Regions from separate parts of the Homo sapiens genome. Here region 2 is linked to region 1. Evidence: fine-mapped expression QTL. A gene starts in region 1. The other region holds a variant in brackets. All regions are shown on one strand. Distances are from middle to middle. Region 1 holds the start of GIMAP5 (GTPase, IMAP family member 5). Region 2 overlaps LOC124901774 (a long non-coding RNA gene).

The links. PIP is the estimated chance that this variant, and not a neighbour inherited with it, causes the effect. A credible set is the group of variants that fine-mapping cannot tell apart.
Region 2: its variant is the best candidate, but not a certain one, in a credible set for the expression of GIMAP5 in whole blood (TOPMed, PIP 0.83).

What each region holds. Positions count from the first base shown.
Region 1 is chr7:150,735,727-150,738,634 of GRCh38, forward strand. It overlaps GIMAP5 (GTPase, IMAP family member 5), which reads left to right and starts at 1,692. Exons shown (of 3, transcript NM_018384.5): 1 at 1,692-1,982. It overlaps GIMAP1-GIMAP5 (GIMAP1-GIMAP5 readthrough), which reads left to right. Exons shown (of 5, transcript NM_001303630.2): 3 at 1,779-1,982. RefSeq lists enhancers at 1-813, 1,689-1,768.
Region 2 is chr7:150,679,076-150,681,983 of GRCh38, forward strand. All of the region lies in intron 2 of LOC124901774 (a long non-coding RNA gene), which reads right to left. Among named protein-coding and RNA genes, the nearest start is that of GIMAP2, 5.2 kb to the right of the region's middle. The variant C/G (reference allele first, on the strand shown) is at 1,635.

The DNA of each region.
Region 1 (2,908 bases):
AATGGTTAGCTTCGGTGCCCCTCACTGTTTATAAGATTTTGATGTGAACTCTGTTGGTCAAGTTTTTGAAAGATTCCAGCCAGGTGCTGGGGGAGTACCTGGTCCCTATCTAGCAAGGGTGAAATCCTGGTCAGATTACAGCCCACTTTCTGCCCTGCTCTGCTCAATTCACATAAATTATGAGTGCTGACTAGGTTGAAAGTCCTTGAAGAATTTAAAAATGTAAGGGCGAATAAAAATCAAAAATAAGGAGAAAACATTAATTCTCTTTTCTGGGGAAAAAACAAAGTGGAAAAGAATTACCCCTCCCTTCTTAGAGCATTTTCTTTAGAAACCTTGTAAGTGTGAAATCTTTCTCTACCCTTTGTAATGCAAATCTTTTTAAAAGCTGTTTGACAGCCCAGGGCTGTCTGTAGAGCATCTGGAAGCCATCCCTTTGAAATGCAAACATCAAGGAAGGTAGCGTCCCCACCTCCCAGTCTCTGTGTGAAAATAGGGGCCTAATTTAGGAGCCTAACTTAGGTAGGAGCCTGACATCTGCCAGCACCTTTCTGAGTTGCAAATCTTCCTCTTGCCATAGAGGATGTGAGAAGTTTACTTTTCCTCTGGAAAGACAATTAGCCAACACAGATGATTACTGAGTGAATTTAGGATGAACTATGCATGTCAAAGGGTGCTGTCAAGTCCTCTTACTTGAGGATTAGTTATGGTTTAACTTGAGAACACGTGTGTAATAGGTGGCACCTGCCTGGCTGTATAACCAGGTGGCATCCCTCTCCGTCTTTGCAATCTCTTCCTGGATTGTCTGGGATCCAGATCACATTCTGGTTCAATGGACATTCAATAATAAAATTGTTTTCTTTCTCTTCTGCCTCTGTGGAGAGGTTTTCTGGGCTAGCAGGAGATTGTTTAAAATTGTTTTCCCATCAAGTCTTAGACAATTGTTACCATATGACTGTAAGCCCCACTTCAAATGTCAACAGAAAAGGATATGGGGATTCTCTGGGCCATGACGGCCCTCCGCCTAAGTCCCACTGTGTTCTCCATCGCATAATTGCCTTATGTCCACTGCCCTAACCTTAAATGGCAATCAGGTTTATGTCCACTGCCCTAACCTTAAATGGCAATCAGGTTTATGTCCACTGCTCTAGCCTTAAATGGCAATCAATTCAAAAATAGAGGTTCTATCACCCTGCTTTCAACCCTTACCAGATAAACTGACACGTAGACTCCACAATGTCCCCACAGGGTGGGCTCCATCACGTGCCAGACAGCTTACCAGGGTCAGTCACGAGCCCAGAGTCAAACCCTGCAAGGGCTTGTTCTGGTCCTCTTTGGACCAGAGTGCCTTTCTGATCCTGGTTAGCAGAAACTTTCCAGAAGCAGAGCCTGTGAGAAGGGGCCCAAGAGTGCTGGGAGGAGAAGGTGCCCCGGTGATGGGTGCTGAGGGCAGCAGCTGCTGCCCAGAACTTTCCAGTCACTAGGGACCTTTTCTGAACTTGGAAGTGGGAGAGTCTGTAATTCCCTTCATATCTCCTTCTTCCAAATACTGCTTGCTTGAAACAGTCAAAAAAAAAAAAAAAAGGAAATGGGATGGGGCACACTGTCCCAGGGCAGGCTCATGACAGGAAGTGACCCGTTAAGGAAGCAGCACATCGCTGCATTCGGCTGGTTTTCAGGGTCTTGTTCCCAATCAGTTTCCAGCCAACACCAGGGTGTCCTAGTCCGCAGAGGTGTGGGGGACACACTCCATAATCTCTACTTTTCTTTTTGTGCAGCTGAGTCATGGAGCTTTCAGCCCCAGCACATGGCTCCTCCTTAACTGCGTCTGCTCAACCTCCCTCAGCCCTGTGAACAGCATCCCCGCACACAGACGCAGAGCAGGACTCTCTCTGCTGCCACTTCACCTTCCTGAGAGAGGACCAGCGGCCAGAGCCTCAGTGACTGCCACCCTGGAGGACAGGGCACAACAACCGTTTCTGGTAAGGAGAACTGGGTTTATGCTCACAGAGACTTTGGGAATTGAAAGGATCACAGTTTGGTCACAGCTGTTCATTTCTGACATGACCTTGCACAGATCCCCTCACTTCTGGGTTCGCTGGTCAGTAAAACGGGGCAATGGTGATGAGTGTTGCGGGCATCAGCAGGTGCACAGCTGGTGGAGCACAGCCTGAAGAATCTGTGCCTGCACTCACAGCCCAGTCCCAGGACAGCGGGCTTTGCTGCCCCATTGCCCATTACTTAGCCAAGTCGATCTCCATGAAACTCTCAGGGAGTAAGGCTGAACTGATCCTCTCATCAGTGGGACAGATGGGAGAACTGAAGCTCCCAGAGGGTGATAGGCTTTCCCCCATCTCCCCTAGCATGCCGGGGCATTCTTCTCAATTTTACCCTCCTAATTTCTCCTGTCCCAGACCAGCCAGACACGTACCATGTCTCAGACAAGCCTGGGAGCTGAGGATGGATTCTTAGGGCTCCCCAGGGCAAATGTGGGATATTTTCCCACCCCAGGAGCCTCATGTTCCAAACAAGACCCCTGAGTGGACCTTGTCTTGTGACTTTCAACTTCTGAAAACTACCCCATGCTCCCCCAGATGCCCCACATTTTTCCTATGACACCCTGCCGGACGCACACCAAACCGCAAAACACATGATTCCAATACCTGGAAATACATGGGCTGGGGCAGATGGGTGAAGGAGATACTTATGAACAAGGAAGACAAGAAGTGGTTTGATCTTTTCTAAAATAGTATGGAAGAGGCTGCTTTCTTGTAATTTGCTAAAATAAGCTCTTCTCATGGTAAAATCAGGTTCATGCAATTTTCAAATCGGAATGTGCATTTTGTTCATTTGCTTCACCCTTTTCCCTGAGCCAGACCCTCCCACCAGCTTGCCAGAGGCTGCTACT
Region 2 (2,908 bases), 57 kb before region 1:
ACTGGGAGGCATACCCCAGGAGGGGCAGACTGACATCTTACACGGCCGGGTACTCCTCTGCAACAAAACATCCAGAGGAACGATCAGGAAGCAGCAATTGCGGTTCACCAATATCCACTGTTCTGCAGCCACCGCTGCTGATACCCAGGCAAAGAGGGTCTGGAGTGGACCTCCAGCAAACTCCAACAGACCTGCAGCTGAGGGTCCTGACTGTTAGAAGGAAAACTAACAAACAGAAAGGATATCCACACCAAAAACCCATCTGTACGTCACCATCATCAAAGACCAAAGGTAGATAAAACCACAAAGATGGGGAAAAAAACAGAGCAGAAAAACTGGAAACTCTAAAAATCAGAGAGCCTCTCCTCCTTCAAAGGAATGCAGCTCCTCACCAGCGACGGAACAAAGCTGGATGGAGAATGACTTCGACGAGTTGAGAGAAGAAGGCTTCAGATGATCAAACTACTCCGAGCTAAAGGAGGAAGTTCGAACCCATGGCAAAGAAGTTAAAAACCTTGAAAAAAAATTAGATGAATGGCTAACTAGAATAACCAATGCAGAGAAATCCTTAAAAGACCTGATGGAGCTGAAAGCCAAGGCACAAGAACTACATGATGAATGCACAAGCCTCAGTGGCCTATTCGATAAACTGGAAGAAAGGGTATCAGTGGTGGAAGATGAAATGAATGCAATTAAGTGAGAAGAGAAGTTTAGAGAAAAAAGAATAAAAAGAAATGAACAAAGCCTCCAAGAAATATGGGACTATGTGAAAAGACTACATCTACATCTGAATGGTGTACCTGAAAGTGACGGGGAGAATGGAGCCAAGTTGGAAAACACTCTGCAGGATATTATCCAGGAGAGCTTCCCAATCTAGCAAGGCAGGCCAACATTCAAATTCAGGAAATACAGAGAATGCCACAAAGATACCCCTCAAAAAGAGCAACTCCAAGACACATAATTGTCAGGTTCACCAAAGTTGAAATGAAGGAAAAAATGTTAAGGGCAGCCAGAGAGAAAGATCCGGTTACCCACAAAGGGAGGCCCATCAGACTAACAGTTGATCTCTCGGCAGAAACTCTACAAGCCAGAAGAGAGTAGGGGCCAATATTCAACATTCTTTTTTTTTTTTTTTTATTCACCGTGAAATTATTTATTTATTTATTTATTTATTTTTTATTAAAGAAAAGAATTTTCAACCCAGAAGTTCATATCCAGCCAAAATAAGCTTCATAAGTGAAGGAGAAATAAAATACTTTACAGACAAGCAAATGCTGAGATTTTGTCACCACCAGGCCTGCCCTAAAAGAACTCCTGAAGGAAGCCTGAAACATGGAAAGGAACAACCAGTACCAACCACTGCAAAAACATGCCAAATTGTAAAGACCATCAAGGCTAGGAAGAAACTGCATCAACTAACGAGCAAAATAACCAGCTAACATCATAATGACAGGATCAAATTCACACATAACAATATTAACCTTAAATGTAAATGGGCTAAATGCTCCAATTAAAAGACACAGACTGGCAATTTGGATATAGAGTCAAGACTCATCAGTGTGCTGTATTCAGGAAACCCATCTCACGTGCAGAGACACACATAGGCTCCAAATAAAGGGATGGAGGAAGATCTA[C/G]CAAGCAAATGGAAAACAAAAAAAGGCAGGGGTTGCAATCCTAGTATCTGATAAAACAGACTTTAAGCCAACAAAGATCAAAAGAGACAAAGAAGGCTATTACATAATGGTAAAGGGATCAATTCAACAAGAAGAGCTAACTATCCTAAATATATATGCACCCAATACAGGAGCACCCAGATTCATAAAGCAAGTCCTCAGTGACCTACAAAGAGACTTAGACTCCCACACAATAATAATGGGAAACTTTAACACCCCACTGTCAACATTAGACAGAACAATGAAACAGAAAGTTAACAAGGATATCCAGGAATTGAACTCAGCTCTGCGCCAAGTGGACCTAATAGACATATACAGAACTTTCCACCCCAAATCAACAGAATATACATTTTTTTCAGCACCACACCACACCTATCCCAAAATTGACCACAGAGTTGGAAGTAAAGCCCTCCTCAGCAAATGTAAAAGAACAGAAATTATAACAAACTGTCTCTCAGACCACAGTGCAATCAAACTAGAACTCAGGATTAAGAAACTCACTCAAAACTGCTCAAATACATGGAAACTGAACAACCTGCTCCTGAATGACTACTGGGTACATAACAAAATGAAGGCAGAAATAAAGATGTTCTTTGAAACCAATGAGAACAAAGACACAACATACCAGAATCTCTGGGACACATTCAAAGCACTGTGTAGAGGGAAATTTATAGCACTAAATGCCCACAAGAGAAAGGAGGAAAGATCTAAAATTGACACCCTAACATCACAATTAAAAGAACTAGAGAAGCAAGAGCAAACACATTCAAAAGCTAGCAGAAGACAAGAAATAACTAAGATCATAGCAGAACTGAAGGAAATAGAGACACAAAAAACCCTTCAAAAAAATCAATGAATCCAGGAGCTGGTTTTTTGAAAAGATCAAGAAAATGATAGACCACTAGCAAGACTAATAAAGAAGAAAAAAGAGAAGAATCAAATAGATGCAATAAAAAATGATAAAGGGGATATCACCACCGATCTCACAGAAACACAAACTACCATCAGAGAATACTACAAACACCTCTACGCAAATAAACTAGAAAATCTAGAAGAAATGGATAAATTCCTCGACACATACACTCTCCCAAGACTAAACCAGGAAGAAGTTGAATCTCTGAATAGACCAATAACAGGCTCTGAAATTGAGGCAATAATTAATAGCTTACCAACCAAAAAAAAGTCCAGGACCAGATGGATTCACAGCCGAATTCTACCAGAGGTACAAGGAGGAG